Homo sapiens: one gene and its partners. The protein of the gene in region 1 purifies or fractionates together with the protein of each later gene. This does not show direct contact. Each region holds a gene or a part of one and is shown in the gene's direction. Other genes may lie near its edges. The genes, in order: MTMR2, NUDT16, LUC7L3, WDR97 and OTOL1.

Region 1 (3,517 bases):
ACCTTTCTAAACAATGAAAAATGGGTAAATGCTTTGATACTTGGAACTACTAGTGAATTTTAATGTTTGAATGAATTGGTTTTTTATATTGTGCATTTGGTTATGTTGTATTTCTTTTGTTCCCCCTCCCATCCTATCTGAATTCGAACCATCCTTCAGATTCCAGTTCATATTTCATTTCTTCCATAAGGTCTTCCCAGATTGCATCCTTTTCCATTTTCTCTGAACTCTTTACCCTGTCTTTCCATCTAATCAGGAACTAGCGTGTACTTTGTTTGCTTTTGTGTGTCAACCAACGTATATTGCTAATTTATGGAGACCAAGACTGGATAAATCCTACATATATTTTTTTGTCCTCTCAGGAGCTAGGGCAGCACTATCCGTGTGAATAGGTACCCAATAAATATTAGTTGATTTGTGAAGTTAAAACCATTCTGATCAGGGAAATGAGGTGGAGTGGTTGCATGAGCCACACTGAGTGCTAAGTCATTCGCAGAGCACATGTCAGTGCTAATTTACCTAACATGCTAATTTAATCTAGTTATATTTTCAGATATGGTCTGTCAGTAACATAACTCACCAAAATGTAGACTTATGTAACCACATATATAAATATTAAGAGGTAATGGGAAATGCAGTCTTTCACGTTAAGAAGGAGGATACTTCTGCTCACATTAAAATCTCTGAAGTTCAGACAGAATTGAAGAGAAAACCAAACTGAATAAGAATTTTAAATAGACCATTTTTACTATTGTTTCCCTTTGAGAAGCTTAGAAGCTTGAAAATCACAAAGTATAAACACTACTCAGAGAGCATGTTCATGTGGCCCATTCATTAAATTATGTGATGTGTAAATATACAGCCTTAGGCTTGATTTGGAACTAACATAAATCGCTGTGTTTGATTCTGAAAACTCCAGATATTTAATTTGCAGTTTCAACATGGTCTCTAAAAGGCTGGCTATAACAGAATCAAATTTCCCTAGAGTTATAAGACATATAGTTGGGCTAAACTACTTTATTCTCCCCCAATCCTTATCACACAAAGAAAGTTTATTTACTCAATCACTCTCTTCTGGTCTCTGCTCAAATATCACCTTTCTGAGAGAGACCTTTCCCAGCCTCTTTACAAAATAAGAGTTCTACCAGCATTCCCTATAACTTCTATGGAGCGTTTTCACTTATTGCCATCTGGTATACTGTATATTTCCTTGTTTATTTGTGACTGGTGGGCCTCACCCAAATAGAATGTAAACTTCAGTAAGCAGGAACTTTGTTCCCTGCTGTATGGCCCGTGCCTAGAGCAGTATCTACCTTCTAGTAAGGGACTCCATAAATGTTTATTTAATGAATGAATGAACAATTACTACTTTGGATAACTCTTCCTGATCAATCTTAACTAAGCCTTTGGGTTAGTGATTCTTAACTTCGTATATGCACTAGAATTATAGGTGGAATTTATTTAAGATACTGAATTAGGATCATTGGACAATGAGGTCTAGGCACTTCAGGCTTACAAATGACTCTTGATATATAGTCAAGATCGTCATAGTACCCCATTTCCAGAATATGCTTATAGCTGTGATCAAGGGGAGGTTATCATACTTCCAAGCTTAATAATCTGTTTTCTTTCATTCTCATCTGCGTATGTAGAACTATACTGTTTTTCAAGTATAATACAATATGGCCATTGCAGAGAAGAATAGGGCTGTATTGTCCTTTTTTTTTTTTTTTTTTTTTAAGATACCATACTTTTGTGTTTCTTTTTTGGTTATATCTAATTATGTTTAGTTTTAACTCAAGATTGACTTCAGAAAAGGTAAGTTATTTTGCAAAGGATTTCTGCATATTTAAAAAAATAAGAGCTGAAGTTATTTTAAGTAACAGATTGACATATTCTGTGAATTTTCATGCAGTGTTACAGAAAAGTAGCTCACTCTAAAGTTTATACTGTGCTTGCTGTATGCTCTGTGACATAAAAATCTTTAGTCAAAACAATACAATAACTGCTATAGAGTATTTTAAAGAGATCCAGTATTATTGCTTTCAGGTGCTTATCCCAATTTGGTTTAAGCATTGTTTTAAATCATAACAAGGCTTCAATTGCTATATCAATTATTTTTATTTAAATAGATGATGGAATATTTGATTCTTAGAAACAGATCTCTTTAGAACTTTTCTAAGAAGAATCTTACACCATGATTTATGTAGCACCCAAAGGTACTTTTGATTTGGCTATTTCGTTGGGCAAATTAATAGGAGTCAGCAATTATGAGGTTTTTCTAGTTTTAAAAGCAAAATTTATATATCTTCTACCATTTAAAAAAATTCTTCTTAGGAAGGGACAAATGTTTTTCCTCATGTTATTGAAATAATGATCCCTGATAAGCTGTATTAGTAAATTTTGAAGAAGGAAGTATTTACCTTGTTTAAAAACAATGTATTAAAAAATCTGTTTTCCAGCTTATTCTTGCAGGGGCTCTTAGGATTGCTGACAAGGTAGAGTCAGGGAAGACGTCTGTGGTAGTGCATTGCAGTGATGGTTGGGATCGCACAGCTCAGCTCACTTCCCTTGCCATGCTCATGTTGGATGGATACTATCGAACCATCCGAGGATTTGAAGTCCTTGTGGAGAAAGAATGGCTAAGTTTTGGACATCGATTTCAACTAGTAAGTAAGGAACCTTGACTTTGGATATATCACATGCATTCATGCCAAGGCATGTGAAAAAAATGTGTTTTTTAAAATAAGATATTCATCTGAAATTGATCATTTATCTAGTGGGGTAAACGTTTTTGCTTGTTTTGGAAAGCATTAAGATATCCCTAACATGACTAGTCTGGAGTCAGAGCTAGCTATTTGTCAAGTGTCTGACCCAGTCTTTTCTGTGATCTCCACTGGGAAACATCGGATATCATTCAGTGATGTCCACGGGTGTTTCTGGGCAGGCGTTTTCCTAAATAATTGAAAAACTTTTAGAAGGGTCTTTACCCAGATGCTGTCTGTAATGTTTACCTTTAGTATCCAGTAGTTACCAGAGTATACTAGCAGTGTTTATACAGTTGTCCCTTGGTATATGTGGGGGCTTGGTTCCCAGATCCCATGAACAGGCCAAAATCCACACATATTCAAGTTCTGAAGCTGGCCCTGCTGGGACCATGTAAAGTTGGCCCTCTGTGTATGTGGGTTCCGCATCCTGCATTTGGCTGAAACAAATCTGCATATAAGTGGACCTGTGCAGTTCTAACCGTGTTGTTCAAGGGTTAACTGTAACATGAAAGGAACAGACATTTAAAGTTAGTCTGCTCTTTTGAACTTGAACTGTTAAATAAAATTGGGTACCTGGAGTGTTTATTCAGATGGCTCACATTTTGCCGTTCTCTACACAATGTACTTATCATGAAACGGCCATTTAAAACAAACTCGTACTTCAAAGAATCAAGTTTTAGTCAGCCAAAGCTGCACATGTTTATATAAATGTGTTCAAAATCAAACATTTTGGGGTGTTCGAAGTTGCT
Region 2 (4,006 bases), on another chromosome or scaffold:
ATCTAGGGTTGGCGAGGCTGGAGGGCAGGGTGAGCCTCCACATGGGTGCTGAAGCAAGAAACCGACAGATGTTGAGGAGAATGGTGTGACCTAGGAGTCAGCATCCTTGGTGAACAAGAGGAGTGGCCACAAGGCCAGTGGCACCTGCCAGAGGGGAAAGCAGGCATGACAGGATAGCATCTCCCAGGTGAGAGCCTTTTGAGGAAGGGAGGGTGGGCAGTGGTCTGGAAGCTTGATGCAGAGCAGTGTGGGTCCCACTGGCAGCCCTTGGTCTTAGAAGAATGGGAGTACCCAGTGGGGGAGCAGCTGTACAATGAGGTAGACTCCTAGAGGTTAATTATCATCTCCTAATCTTACCCTGACCCTTTTGTCAAACGTTATCTAGATTAAACCTCAGTATAGGCAGGCTGCAGGAAATGGACATTCCAGTGGCCCCTGGGGTTCCAGCCTGTAGCAGCTTCATCTGTGCTTTGTGCACTTGGTTCTCAGTCATCTCTGCAAGGGACCCTGACGCCTGGGAGATCAGAGCCACTGACCCTTTATGGCACTGCTAACAGACCCCTTCCCTCAGGTAATTCTGGATCCAGAACTCATTATGGGATGTAATCCAGGTCAACACTAATACCACTTGGAAGGTTCCGCTCTGTCTCACTCTGCTTGAGTATCCCACTGATCAGTCTCTCAGTGCCTGCCTACTGGGCAGCTCATCTGTCCACTTATTCGTATTAAATTTGCTTTTTATTTAGGTCTCTGGAGATGGTTGCGTGGGGAAGAGCCCATGACTTTCCTATATGATCCCTTGAACATACTCTCCAAGTCAGTAGATTACCTCTCAGGCAGCCTTCATAAAAGTGTTTCACTGTACTGGGGTTTGTGTTCATCTCACTCACATAGACAGTCTCTGGGTAGGCAGGTGGGGGGTGATACAAGTTCACACTCTGTGTTTCTCCTCCTGTTAGCCATTCCCACCCTGCTGATGTTTAAGGAAAGCCAGGGATGATGACCCACTTAAGCTTTCCTTGGCCTTGTTAAGTCCAATCATCTGGGGCAGGAAGAAGAGAAATGCTCATTGCAATCTTTGACCCCCACTAACTGCTGTGGTGACTTTGACCCAAGCCCTTGACCTCCTTTTCCTTATCTGAAATGTTGCTGTGATTCCTGTGGTGAGATCAGATGAGGCAGCACTTGGGATAAGCTTGCAGAGATGCATTGAGCGGTATGAAAGTACAGGATGCTATGTACTTTCCTGCTTCACAGCACATTTTGTTTCTTGCAAGGTGAGTGGCCCAGCCGCCTCTCCACAAACACGTGTTTCTGCCTTTCTCAGCATAATCAGCAAGATGTTCCCACTTCTCAGCATTGCACTTTTCTGCTGGTGCAGAATAAAAACACTTTGAGCCCCACCCTGTCCTGAGACAAAGTCCTCTGTGGTCACTTGGCATATGGCAAAGCTGCTGCTGTGGGCTGGAACATTTGAGGCAACAGTGACTTCCTCCTTTCCTAGTTACCGGAACCCTTAGAGCTGGGAGCCGGCCAGTGAAACAGACAAGGGGAGGGGAAGAGAAGAGGGAAGGCATGTTTCCTATATGAGTTTCAGTTTGTTGCACAGAAATGTTTTTGAAACCTTTATCTCCAATAGAATCACAAACGGGTGTCAGAGAGTCAAAACTAGAGGAAAAAGTTTAGTCTGTAAACAAATCATTAGATGGCATCAGAATTTGAACCAAAGTAAAAGATGCTGGACCTTGGCACTTATCAGAGAAGTATAGAAGAGCCAGGTAGGGGATTTTATTTACAACATGTTCAATTCTGAGGAAGAGGAGTATGGGCAGGGCAGAGGAAAAAGGAAAAATGGGAAACCCCCATGGACTTAGGGCCCCCACAAAGAGAAACCATGTGCCTTCTCCCCACTTCCCTTCTGGCTTGGGCAAATGAGGCTCCCTTTAGGGGTAGAGGTACTCTACAGGGGCTATGTTCCCTTTAGGGGTAGAGGTAGTCTACAGGGGCCAGCTGGGCAGAGATGAAATCTTGCAAAGGAACCCTTCTTACACTCGAAAAGCAAGAATAGCAAAGGGACTTTGGGAAGGACATAAAACAAGAAAAGGAAGCTCCTCACCAACAGCTCCCAGATGGAGGGAGTTTGTGTGTCTAGCATTTTCACCAAAGTGCTGCTCATCCTGATGCACAGATGCAGATTGGAGCTGCTGCCTGTGCCCTCACCATGGGTATGTACCCACCACAGGCATTCCCAGGTGATGCGGGGGCAGAGGATTCCCTCTTTCCACTCAGGATAACAACCCCTCGATGGGGTTTTCAACAAGTATAGAAAGCTCCTGGACTCAGCCAAGACCCTCACCTACAGTCCCAGTCCTCCCACCTTCTTCAGGTCTCTAGAAGACAGAACTGATGGGTTTACAACATCCTATTATCCAGCACTAGTCCTAGGTTGTGGATGTAGGGAAAGGCCAGGTAAACAAGGAAGGGAGAACAGGTGAATGACCCCAATTGTTTGAAACCAAAAGAGCAGAATTGCCCCTAATTGATTTAAGTAAACAGCAAGTAACATAGGTCTGTTAAATAGAAGAGGATGTGAGCACCAGATGCACGTGATAAAGACCATGCTCTGGAAGATTCATTCCAAGGAGTAGAAGTGGTATTTACTCAGGGCATTTAAGGAGAGCAGGGACTCTGAAATGAGGTGAGAGAAAAGATAAGACATGCAGGAACAGCTGGCAACACCAAGAAAGAATTTAAGGAGAGGGATCTCTCTGTTAGAGAACTTAACATTACCCTAGGAACAGCAAGAGCATCATCAGCCCCAGGAAAATCTACCTCTGATATGGAGACCAGGCTTAAGAAAATCCCCTAGAACCCAGAGAAAAAGTGCAAAACAAGGAAAATGGCCAAAGAGAATATCATAGATACAGAGATCAGACAATGAGAATCCAGAGTCTTGTTAAGTGATAGAAGGAAAATACTAACAGAACACATGTAACAGGAACAACATTTTAGAGGAAACAGGACAAAAACTTCCCTAAACTCAAGATACTACACCAGAAGTGGGCAGTACTCACTATGTTCAGGGGAACAAAAAGATAAAAACTAAAAAGCATCAGACTGTTTTTTGTGTGAAGGAAATTTGTAAGGTAGGAGAATTAGGTCACTTACTACAGCACAAATTGCATGTCTATCTAAATTGACGTTTAAGTGCAAAAGCATGGATATTACTCATGCAGTTTTACTGGAAAACCATACAGATGTTTTTCAGGAATGTACAGAATGAATCAAAGGAAATAACTGATCGACAGGAAAACTGTAGGAAATTTGTGGGCTGGCTGTGAGGCAGTGGCTCCTATTATGTACAATTTTAGTGCTAAGTACTGTGTTAATGATGGCTATCAAACAATATGTTAACATCTGAAAGGAAATATGTATATTGAGCATAATAAATATTTTATAAATAACAATAAATCATTTGATTTTATGCTAGTTCCCAGGTTCTCACTTATTTTAGTAAAAGTGAGTAGTGAGGAGGGAGAAAGAAGCATAAAAATGTGATTCTGCTGAGGAAATTAGCAGGATTTGATTTCTGAAAACGGTAAGACTCGTGAAATTTTACTATTTCAAAGTACATACCAAAACAATATGATTCTGGCTGAATATGAAAAGATGAGAAAGAATGCCAGGGAATTACAGTAAAAAAGTAAGAGATCATCATAATATTAATATCAAAGGCACTAGAATTCTTTAATTGATCAAGAGATTATCCACAATAATCACATAATCACCAACAATTTCAGATTATATACAGCAAAGTCTATTAGAAATTAAGAAAATAGTATTAATTAAGAGAGTGCTAAGATACTTTCAGTCAATGTTTGACAGTTAAAATGTCAGGTGTAAGTATGCCTATGTAGTATTGAAAAAGAATAAAAAGGAAGATGCTGATGACAATTAACATTTTAGGGATGCCTACTGTGTGGCAGGCACTATTCTAAGCTCTTTT
Region 3 (3,076 bases), on another chromosome or scaffold:
AACACAAAGATAGCTCCCAGGCACTGCTTTGTGTAGTTTGACAGCATTGTGGTTGTAGCAGCAAAGGACTTAAAGTGATAGTTTTTAAACCATATTCTGTCCCTAAGTAATAAAAAATCTAGGAAGTTACTAAAATACCAGATTTGTTCTGCTCTGCCTCATCTAGAATCAACGTCTAACTAACTTAAATGAAGTATAATAAATGAGTTCATATGAAAAGGCTTCCTCTATGGACACTTAGATATATTGTAACTATTGAAGTTACCTGGGATGTGGGGGTGGTGGGAGGAGGACCTGCCTCCCCAGGACATCTATGACTAAGGCCTGGCTTTAGTTATGGAGAGAGACGTAGAAGTTGAATTTTACACCCAAAATTGATGTGACTGAAGAGGAACTGATTGTTGCTAACCAGCTCACAAGAATCCAGTATTGAGACCAGTTCACTAGAAGAAACAAACATTTCTGCCATGCAGACCAAAAAGTTATTAGTTGGTGAATATGTATTTTCTCTTTGGAAGGTCTTTAAGGGGAGCAAACCAGTTTTAATCAATCAGATTGCTTGGTAAGTTTGGAATCTGCAATCAGTTGGTCTTAAAAAAAAAAAAACTTTATTTTGGAAATTTAAAGACATACACAAAAGAGGAACAATATAATTAACCTCTGTTAACTCATCACCAACAAGACTCATGACCACTTTTATACTTCATGAGTGATTGTATTTGTATCCACTGTTTTCTATTATTTTCGAGCAAGTCTCAGACACACCATTTAATCTGTAAATAATTCAGCATGTATCTCTAAAAGACAAAGACCTCTTAAATAACAGTTCATTAGTATAAAACAAATTGGGTAAACTTTTGTTGGTCATCAAACTATATTAGCACTGGTCCAATAGTTTAATTTTCATTGAGCCTTTCAAGAGGACCGACCAGTCTGCTGCTCAAGACATCCTCTCCTCTGGAATGTAGAGATAATACATATCATGCTCCTTTTTGTTAAAACGTTTTTTTTTCCCCTTCAAACACAGTCCATTCATTTTTCAGTTTGGGTTGAAACATCCTTTTCTTGATCTTGAGCTTATAATAACCTAGTCATATTGCTCAGCTCAGATATTTTTACTCCCTCTCCTTAGGCATTCTGGTTCCTTAAATATAGTTAGTGTCACAGAGGATAAATAACCAACCTTATTTCTAAGGTCTGAGAACACTTGGACCACATATTGGTTGAGCTCAGCCACCTTCTGATTAAAGTTTTCAGACTTGTAAGAACTGAAAATTTTTATGGTGGAAGTTCTCTGAGCCCTCATCCATTCTGTTTTTAAAAATGCATTGCAGATGGGCTATGTGAATATGTTTTTAAACATCTGATATGTGCATGAAACAAAAAACACTTGAAGTTATTATGTATACAATTCTGTGGGATGGGACTTCATGCAGGATTGGTTTTCAAGTTTGATTTCCTGAGGGATTTTTTAGTTGTTTGTGAAAGAACCCCAGGTCTACTTTTGAAATTTTGTATTATAATTGTAATGTTGCCCATGGTTAAAAAAAAAAAGTGTTCAGTGATCTATGTCTCCTACTACTCCTATTTCTCTGTTTTTCCTCTGCAGGAGCTTGCTGCTGTTAACAGTTATTCTTCCAAGTTGTTTTCTTTGTGGGGAGATGGGAGGTGGGAGGAAATATAAACATATATGTATAGATCTTTCAAAATATATGACGGTATACCCGTATGTTCTGAGTCTTGCTGTTTTTACCTGGTAATATTTAGAAACATTTATTTTGAGATAAAGGAGAGCACTTTTAAGTTGAACCTGTAGTTTTAAAAAGTACATTTCAAGTAAGCCAAAGCAGAGAAGTAAATGTATTTTTCATTGTTGTATCAGAATTTTGAATTTACTATTTTAAAAATTCAAGAGTTTTGTAGCTGATCTATTTCTTCCCCTCAGCCATCCCAAATAGGTCATTTGTCAACAGATTTAAGAATGTTTAGAAACAACAACTTTGGGAAACGGGAAACAATTTGGTATAAGTGGGTGTGCCATAACCTCTCTCGTAGCCATTCATTCCCGGATACATACCCTAGAGAAACTCTTACACATGCGTACCAGGGGATGGATTTAAGCATTTGTGTGTAATAGGAAGAAAAGAAGAAAAAACCCGGGAAGATCCCAAGTGTCCACCAACAGTGTGTTGGATAAATACTGTGGTATATTCCAACAGTGGAATTCCACAGAAGTGAAACTGAACTGCAGCTGTGTATGTGAACATGGACAAAACTCAACAATAGAAGGATCAAAAAAAGCAAGTCACAGAAGAATACATCACTATGGTTCCATTTCAATGAAAGTCAAAAACAGGCTGTCAAATACATGATAAAAGGAAACGATTAAGACAAAATTTAATGTTAGCCGTTTTGATGGAGGGAGAGGTGATCATGAGGGCACAGGGGTCTTCAGAAGAACTGGTGAGGGTCTGTTTCTGAAGCCTGTGGGCATTTCCTTTTTTAATCTGTATGTTTATGTGCTTTTGTATGTATGATATTTCTTAATAAAATTTAAAAAGAAGAATGGGAAAAAAGTCTTGGTGTAGGTAGTTACTAATATATAAGCTGTAGTGTATTTCGTAAAATTAACCATCAGTCAGTGACAAATTTAAAGATGCTGTTTCTTGAGTGCCCAATTTAAGGTTTTATTTTGTTTGAGACAGGGTCTCTGTCTTGTCACCCAGGCTGGAGTGCAGTGGCACGAGCTCAGCTCACTGCATCTTTCGCCTCCTGGGTTCAAGCCATTCTCGTGCCTCAGCCTCCCAAGTAGCTGGGATTACAGCTTCGCACCACCACACCTGGCTCATTTTTTTGTATTTTTAGTAGAGTGTTTCACCATGTTGTCCAGGCTGGTCTCAAAACTCCTGACCTCAAATGATCAGGCCCACCCTGGCCTCCCAAAGTGCTGGGATTACAGGTATGAGCCACCGCGCCCAGTCTTCAAATTGAGGTCTTAATTGTAACTCTTAAAAAGCTAGAAACGGCGACAAGAGCAAGACTCCGTCTCAAAAAAAAAAAAAAAAAAAAAAAAAAA
Region 4 (3,517 bases), on another chromosome or scaffold:
GGTAGGCTAGGAGGTGGGGAGGGCTGGGGTCTCCTACCTCTGCTCCTCACCAGAGCCCACTGGCTGGACTGAGTGGAGAAGGCCTTGTCCCTGCTGAGCCTCGGCTGCCCTGGGTGCCTCTCCAGGCTCCTGCAGCTGAATGGTGCCCCTCAGGCCCTGGCTTTCTGCAGCAACAGTGGAGACCTGGTGCTGGCGCTGGGATCCCGCCTCTGCCTGGTGTCCCACAGGCTCTACCTGCCTACATCCTACCTAGTTAAGGTGTGTGGTGAGGACAGAGTGAGCAAGGTGGGCCCCCCTTGCTCACCTTGGGGGGCAGACCCAGGTTCCCCCAGCCAGGGATACAGGCTCCTTCCCCTATTCAGAAGATGTGCCGGAAGGCCCCAGACGTGGTGGACGACCCTCCGCTGCCACTGATGAGCCAGGAGTCACTGACTTCCGCCCAACTGCAGAGGCTCACCAACCTCCATGGGGCAGCCAGCCTCAGGTCCCATGCAGGCCTGCTCAGCCCTCCTGGAGGCCCTCCTTTCCCACTCTGGGTGGGGGCCTGGCGGTGTGGGGCCCTCTGGAGTTGATACAAGCCTGCCTGAGCCCTGGCACACCCGTTTGGGGTTGGTCCTTGTCCCAGCCTCTGCCCCAGCCCACTGGCATGCCACCCAGCATCCCACCTGTGCCTGTCCCTGTTTGCAGCGAGGCCTTGTCTCTCATCCATCGTCGGAGGGCAACATCTCAGCACCTGGTGCCGAAGGAGGTGGGGTGGGTCCTCCTTAGCCCGCCCTGCCCCGGCTCAGGCCCCAGCCGTCAGCCCTGGGGCAGGCCTGGGATCCCCATGGTTGCCCGGGCAGCACATAGCAAGGCTCAAGGAAGAGCAGGCTGATCCCTGAACCCTGACTCAGGACTTGGACGCCATAGTGGCCCGGGACCGAGACCTTCAGCAGTTGAGGCTGGGGCTAGTGGTCCCAGCAGCCCAGCCCCCACCCTCCTGGCAGCAGCGCCAGGAAGGCTTTGACAATTACCTCCGTCTGATCTACGGCTCTGGCCTGCTGGTAGGTGTAGGGCCTCCCCCAGCCCAGCCCTGACCCTGGCCCCTCTTCTCCACCCACCCCTCCCACCTGGTCTCTGATGGTCTGTCTGCTCCTGCTACCTCCCAGGGCATGCAGTCTGGAAGGGGGTCCCAGCAGTGGAGTGCCGGGACCCTCAGAGTGGAGAGAGAGACCCGGGATGTGTGTGCTGTACCCCAAGCTGCCCACTGTCTTGCCCGGGCTGAGGTCAGCACTGCAGCCCAAACAGTGCCAACAGCCCTGTCCCCACAGGACCTGGGAGCCCTGGGCCAGCACTTCTCCCAGTCTCCCCGAGTCACAGTGCCGATCCCACCCACCCACCGTAGGGTGCACAGCAAGGCATCCCAGGTGAGGCTTCCCACCCTCCCACATGCCTGCTGGGCCCCCATGACCCCTCTGCCACCCTGTGACTCCTCCTATGCCCCAGCTTCTGGCCCGCTCCTCACTGAGCCACTACCTGGGCATCAGTCTGGATCTGCAGCTGCAGTTGGAGCAGCTCCGAGGGAGGACGACCATGGCCCTGGACCTGCCATCCTCCCACTTGCAGTGCAGGGTGAGGGACCCAGGCAGGTGGGGTACCACCTACTGAGGGGCAGAGCTGCCGGGGTGCTAGGGGCTGTGTTGTTCTGAGCCCCCATTCCATCCCCCAGATCCCACTGCTGCCAAAGAGATGGGACAAGGAACCTCTCTCTAGCCTCAGGGGCTTCTTTCCTGCCACCGTGCAGCCCCACAAGGTGAGACCCCCTCCCAGCTCCTGGAGAGCCACTCCTCTCCAGGCATCACTCTTGTGCCTGCCATCTCCCCTTTGCTACAAATCTTTGTGTCCAAATCTGACCCAAGGGCCATGCCCACCTACAACCAGAGGGCCAGGCTGTAGCCTCCCACGCACCCCTCACCCCTCACCCTTCACCCTCTGTCTAGCCCTGTTCCAGTACAGCTGTGTTTGTGGCCACAGGCTCCTTGCTGCTCTGGGAGCTGACATCAGGCAAAGCCAGTCCCCCCAGCCGGTTATGCCACACACCCCTTTCCCCCGTGGAGGCGCTGGGAGGGCAGGTCCCCTAGGGACTTTTCCTGGAAGATCAGAATCCCTGCCCTTTAGAGGAGCAAAGTCAAGGGAACCTGGCCCTTTAGAATCCACTGTCTTCCCACCCTCACGTACACCAGGTGCCCAGGCAGGCCTCAGCCCCTCCCCCAGCATATTCCTGGCACTGTCACCTGCCCAGGTGGGTAATTGACTCTTTGGGCCTGGGTGCCACCATCATGCTCTTCATTGCCCTTTCTCCAAGCTCCTTCCTTCCTCCCTGGCCCCTGTGCTTCTTTTAGACTTTCTTGTCCCAGGGCTGGGGCCAAGTCCTGTAAGGAGCTTGCAGGGTGTCAGGGCCCCTAGAAGCCAGCACTTCTCCAGGTTTCCCTTCTCGTTTGTCAGAGCTGATGCTCACTGAGGGCCTCGCCCCTGGTATCTCAGGGTTCTCCTGCCATCTGTGTTGAGAGTAGGGGTTGCTAGCTCAGCCAGCTCTCGGAGGCCTGGCAGGCAGAGCTGGACTGGCGGCTGAGGGGCTCTGAGAGGTTATACAGGTGACCAAGGGTGGTGTCCAGGCTGGGGAATCCAGGTCCTCAGCATTCCCTGCTGTGCCCACCTCCAGCACTGCCTGAGGCCCATCTGCTTCCCCGGCTATGTGCCCAACTCCGCGGTGCTACAGCAGATGTGGCTAAATGCGGAGGTCAGCAGCCTCGGATCCCCGACTCAGCTCGCCTCCCAGAGAAAGCTCGAGGCAAGGGGCAGGGCTGGGGGTTTTGCCGGCAGGGGAGGGCTCTGCTGTCCTTGCAACCCATCAGGCACCATCTCTTGCCCCTCTGCAGCCAGGGGCAAGCCAGGATGCCCTGTGGTTGTGGCGCCCCAGGCCATCCCAAACCCAGTGGCAGAGGAAGCTGCTCCAATGGATGGGGGAGAAGCCTGGGGAGGAGGGGGAGGAAGACAAGAAGGAAGAGGAGGAGGAGAAGGAAGACGAGGAGCTGGACTGGGCCTTGGCTTCCCTGAGCCCGCACTCCAACCAGCAGCTGGATTCCTGGGAACTGGAGGATCAGGTAGAGGCTCAGGCAGAGGCCCCAGGCCACCACGGGAGGTGGGCTTACACTGAGACCCAGACAGGTGGGACCTGCAGCCACTGCTGCTCCCCTAGAGTGCTGTGGACTGGACCCAGGAGCCCCGGCGGCGCAGCTGCAAGGTTGCCAGGACCCACCCTCATCCCTGGCACCGTCATGGGAGTTTGCTCTTGGATGAGCATTACGGGCATCTGCCCAAGTTTCTGCATTTCTTCATCTACCAGACCTGGTTCAAAAAGTTGTTCCCCATCTTCAGCCTGCAGGTTGGAGGGAACTGGGGATGCATGAGAAGCATGGGTTAGGGTGAGGGACAGGGGAGAAGGTAGGGGCTGGCTTGGGTGTGACATGGGAGCAGG
Region 5 (4,101 bases), on another chromosome or scaffold:
TGACCTTCTTTCCTGAAACTTTGCTGAAATTATTTATCAGTCCCAGGAGAATTTTGGCAGTCTTTAGGGTTTTCTAGGTATAGAATAATATTTTCTGCAAAGAGAGAGAGTTTGACTTCTTCTTTTCCTATTTGAATGCCATTTATTTCTTTCTCTTGTCTGATTGCTCTGGCTAGCACTTTCAGTACTATGTTGAATAGGAGTGGTGAGAGAGAGCATCATCGTCATGTTCCAGTTCTCAAGGGGGAATGGAGAGCTGTTGTGAGACCTGATTGGATTGATTAATGTACGGCATCTACTCAGAGTAGGGACTGTATAAACAGTAGACCTTTTTAATCTCTTTATTTCCATTCTATTTACTCTCTTACTATTTATCTTAATTATGGCTGCCTTCTCCTATCAGGAAATGTGGATTTATAACCCTGGCTATCTGTTAGCACCCCTTAGACTACTGGGAGTTGATTTGGAATGGAATACTCTGAACTATCAAAATTTCACCTCATTAGAAACCTTACATCATATCACTTTGGACATTGCCAAAGCTCTTTTTAGAATAACCACATTTTGCCCCATTAAAATAATACAAGAATAAACATGAATTTCTAGAAAAACTCCCCAAATTACAAAGCAAAGAGGTGGAGAGTTAAATGCCATGTGAAGAATCTAAGAATGTAGCATATATTCAAATTTATTATTTTTAATTGTCTCTCTCTTCACTTATTAAAATAGATTTTAAAAAATTGCTCTCACAACAGGACCATTATCCTTAGTAGATTTAAGGACTATTTCACCATATTTTTTCTTGAAATAATTGAGTTTGCTGGAATAAACTACTCAGTTCAATATTTTTCATCTCCCTCTAATACAAATGTATTTGATTTCTATAAATCTGAGTGAAATCAGTGAGGAAATTATACACATTTATCTTCCACAGGGTATATGAGCTATTGAGTCATGTTGTATTTATTGTAGATCATGTTTGCTATTTGGCCAGATAGTTTGAATAGTTGGGAACAATATATAATACTAAGAAAATAACCAGAAAGATGAATGGAAGTAAAGTGTTCTTTATAATAAATAAGTACATAAAATATTCTGTAGTGATTCAAGTACACATTTACATGTAAAATATATTGAAAATATATCATTCTATATTATGCATATCATTCATTCTTATGATTCATATACATATATATTTCTTTTATATGAGTATATGTTTATATGACTTAGTCTTTTCATTTGGACCTCACATAATATGTATATATTTTCCTATTATATCTTTCTTCCAGCTTCAAATATGTGGATGTTTTCTTGGCTTTGTGCTATTTTAATTATTTTGGCTATTGCTGGTATGAACACAATAGCAAAGACCACACCACATACCAAATTTACGAAGAAATCTGAGGAAAGAGAGATGCCAAAGGGTCTAAAGCCATCCAGTGGCCCACCTCCAGAAGAAGAAGAAACCCTCTTCACAGAAATGGCTGAAATGGCAGAACCAATTACCAAACCCTCGGCCTTGGATTCTGTCTTTGGCACTGCCACTCTCTCTCCCTTTGAAAACTTCACTCTTGACCCAGCTGATTTCTTTTTGAATTGTTGTGATTGTTGTTCACCTGTACCCGGGCAGAAAGGAGAACCTGGAGAGACTGGACAGCCAGGTATTAGAAAATATAAGAAGTCATGTTTCTCACTTGTACATTGGTAGAGTTGAGAGGTAGGTTGTCGGGTGAAATTGCCCCAGGAGTTTCTACGTTGTTATGCAAATAGTAACAGGTCTAGGTGTCACATTGTTACAAATGTAAATGGGTGCTGTGTTGCCCAATGTGGTAATTAATAAATATTAAAATTAAAATTGAATAAGGTAAAAAATTCAGTTCATCAGTCACATTAGCCACAGTTCAAGTGCTCAACAGCCACTGTATTGGGCAGCACAGATAGCATTTCCATCATTGTAGACAATTCTACTGGACAGTGCTGGTGAGAGCAAAGTCAGGAATTACCAACTCCAGCATGGTGCTCTGGTTCTTCAAGATGCACAGGTTTATTACCAGTACAATTTTTTAAATTAGTGGCTGATTTAAAAAGGGTAAATGAAACTTCTGTTGCCTTGCAAGAATGTGTGCTGACTGATGGATTTTCTGAGTGCTATTTGTAGTTAGGATTAGAAATGGAATGGCTCTGAGGTGGAGAATAAAGCTTAGGATTCCATTTGCTTCTCATTGAATTTCTGAGGCAATACTGTGTCATTGCCCAATGATTTTCTCCATTGAACACCATGGTTATGTATTTCAAGATTTCAGATGTCTATAATATATACATAATGAATATAGTCTTGGCTTTATTCTAATACATTTCAGCTTTTACATGTCATCTAGAAGAGAATTCAAGGTAAAGTTAAGATCAGAATGTCAACTTAAAATTCACCATTGCCTGAGGAATTTAATGTTATAAACTAAGCAATTATACATCTTCACCAAGCTTTTCATTCATTTCATCCCTTTGTAGGGACCTTTTGGGAAATGCGGTTAGTATTTATGCAGAGCTGCATTAAGGAGTAAAGGAGATGGGCCGTAGCTTGGGTACCAAGATGTCAGGATTGCTAAAACATTACTGAAAATTTAATGAGACTGAGAAAATTATATTTACCAGAAGTCTTAGTATCCTATCTGGCTGGTAAGCTGCTTGGCGGTGAAAATCCCAAGGGCATGGTCAAGTAGACACAGCTGGTTGCTAAACTATTTGCTAAGGCTGTGAGTTCTGTAACATCAGGGCTTTTGTTTTACCCAGTGGTGGATTTAGCTGTGCTGTTCTCAGGGTTCATTCTCTCCTCTAAATATATATGACAAATAATTCCAAGGTGTGCCAAGTTATTACCCTGCCTGGGGAGCTCATATGTCTTAGTCTGACTGGTTCTGCCACAGAGCATAGTGCTTGAGAGCTTAGAATGCTGAGACTATCTTGGTCCTACTTAGGGAAGCTACTCTGCTTTGGGAAATCTTAATCTATTCTTTGGGTCTTAGCTTAATACCATTTTCTCAAGGAAGCCTCTGATCTCATCAGTTAAGTCCTCAATAAGACCTTCGTATTTTTCTTTATATCATTTACTACAATGTGACAATTTCTACGTATTTGTGTGGCTATTTGTTAAATGTTTATCTTTCATAGACTCTCAGCTTCATGAGAGTAGGGACTGCTGGAATGTTGATGGCTGCATTCCTAACACCTTGCAGGGTGCTTGGTGTATAGGATGCCTCAGAAATAGTTAATGAATGAATGAGTAAGTGAATAAAAGGGAAATCCAAAGGTGCTAGGTGTTGTTTTTACTTCCAATGTGAAAGTGTGGTCCATATGAGGTTAAGTGTCAGATTATCATTTTGTTCTTGTTTGATATAGTGCTGCTTCCCTGAATCATTTGATCACTGCCATGAATACAGTGACAAGTACTAATGGTCTCAATTTATCTATTCAGGTAGTACGAAATTGCAAATCAGACAAAAATATTGCCCTTAGGACTCTGTGTGGTTTATTCTTACTCAGATTTTACCATTAGGTCATTGATACTTATTGATTGCAGTAAAATGCTTTTTTTCTTTCCTGAACTAATGAACTTTAAAAGAGAAATTTTATATTCTGATGTATTTAAAATCCCATTTCTAGGTCCTAAAGGAGAGGCTGGAAATTTGGGGATCCCAGGGCCACCAGGAGTTGTTGGGCCCCAAGGCCCTAGAGGCTACAAAGGAGAGAAAGGTAGGTAATTCATTCATGTCAAAACTCAAGGGACATTCTGCATCATTTTTCAGGAGAGCAATTTGCTACTTAAAGACTAGATTCTTGCAGATGAGTCAATTTTAAAAATGTAAATACTTGATAAAGCACATTATATTTGATATAAATATGTTAACTTTATAAACAGCCAATTGAGAAATTTTAAACTTACCTGGGAACACTGCACACATGCATGCAGGCACACAGATTGTCACACAGCTTTTCCATCTCTCATTGGTCACCTAGCTGACCTAGTGACAAGCAGCCACAGAGTATAGTCTCTGGGGAAGGGTATAGAGATACCCTTCCTGTACATGCTCATGTTAGCCTACT

What was found.
Region 2: the proteins of MTMR2 (region 1) and NUDT16 purify together in Homo sapiens (affinity purification with mass spectrometry, with the first as the bait; one large-scale study listed by BioGRID). This does not show direct contact.
Region 3: the proteins of MTMR2 (region 1) and LUC7L3 purify together in Homo sapiens (affinity purification with mass spectrometry; one large-scale study listed by BioGRID and IntAct). This does not show direct contact.
Region 4: the proteins of MTMR2 (region 1) and WDR97 purify together in Homo sapiens (affinity purification with mass spectrometry, with the first as the bait; one large-scale study listed by BioGRID). This does not show direct contact.
Region 5: the proteins of MTMR2 (region 1) and OTOL1 purify together in Homo sapiens (affinity purification with mass spectrometry, with the first as the bait; one large-scale study listed by BioGRID). This does not show direct contact.

The regions. Positions count from the first base shown.
Region 1 is NC_000011.10:95,844,105-95,847,621, reverse strand, and holds part of MTMR2 (phosphatidylinositol-3,5-bisphosphate 3-phosphatase MTMR2), read left to right. Parts: intron 1-2,462; coding exon 2,463-2,669; intron 2,670-3,517. UniProt on the Homo sapiens protein: Lipid phosphatase that specifically dephosphorylates the D-3 position of phosphatidylinositol 3-phosphate and phosphatidylinositol 3,5-bisphosphate, generating phosphatidylinositol and phosphatidylinositol 5-phosphate.
Region 2 is NC_000003.12:131,385,342-131,389,347, forward strand, and holds the end of NUDT16 (U8 snoRNA-decapping enzyme), read left to right. Parts: 3' UTR 1-3,489; downstream 3,490-4,006. UniProt on the Homo sapiens protein: RNA-binding and decapping enzyme that catalyzes the cleavage of the cap structure of snoRNAs and mRNAs in a metal-dependent manner. Part of the U8 snoRNP complex that is required for the accumulation of mature 5.8S and 28S rRNA.
Region 3 is NC_000017.11:50,753,644-50,756,719, forward strand, and holds the end of LUC7L3 (luc7-like protein 3), read left to right. Parts: 3' UTR 1-2,576; downstream 2,577-3,076. UniProt on the Homo sapiens protein: Binds cAMP regulatory element DNA sequence. May play a role in RNA splicing.
Region 4 is NC_000008.11:144,110,739-144,114,255, forward strand, and holds part of WDR97 (WD repeat-containing protein 97), read left to right. Parts: coding exon 1-1; intron 2-125; coding exon 126-258; intron 259-362; coding exon 363-484; intron 485-687; coding exon 688-748; intron 749-893; coding exon 894-1,043; intron 1,044-1,148; coding exon 1,149-1,406; intron 1,407-1,485; coding exon 1,486-1,611; intron 1,612-1,708; coding exon 1,709-1,792; intron 1,793-2,701; coding exon 2,702-2,779; coding exon of another isoform or gene 2,780-2,830; intron 2,831-2,918; coding exon 2,919-3,143; intron 3,144-3,238; coding exon 3,239-3,424; intron 3,425-3,517.
Region 5 is NC_000003.12:161,495,511-161,499,611, forward strand, and holds the start of OTOL1 (otolin-1 precursor), read left to right. Parts: upstream 1-1,297; coding exon 1,298-1,661; intron 1,662-3,660; coding exon 3,661-3,750; intron 3,751-4,101. UniProt on the Homo sapiens protein: Collagen-like protein specifically expressed in the inner ear, which provides an organic scaffold for otoconia, a calcium carbonate structure in the saccule and utricle of the ear.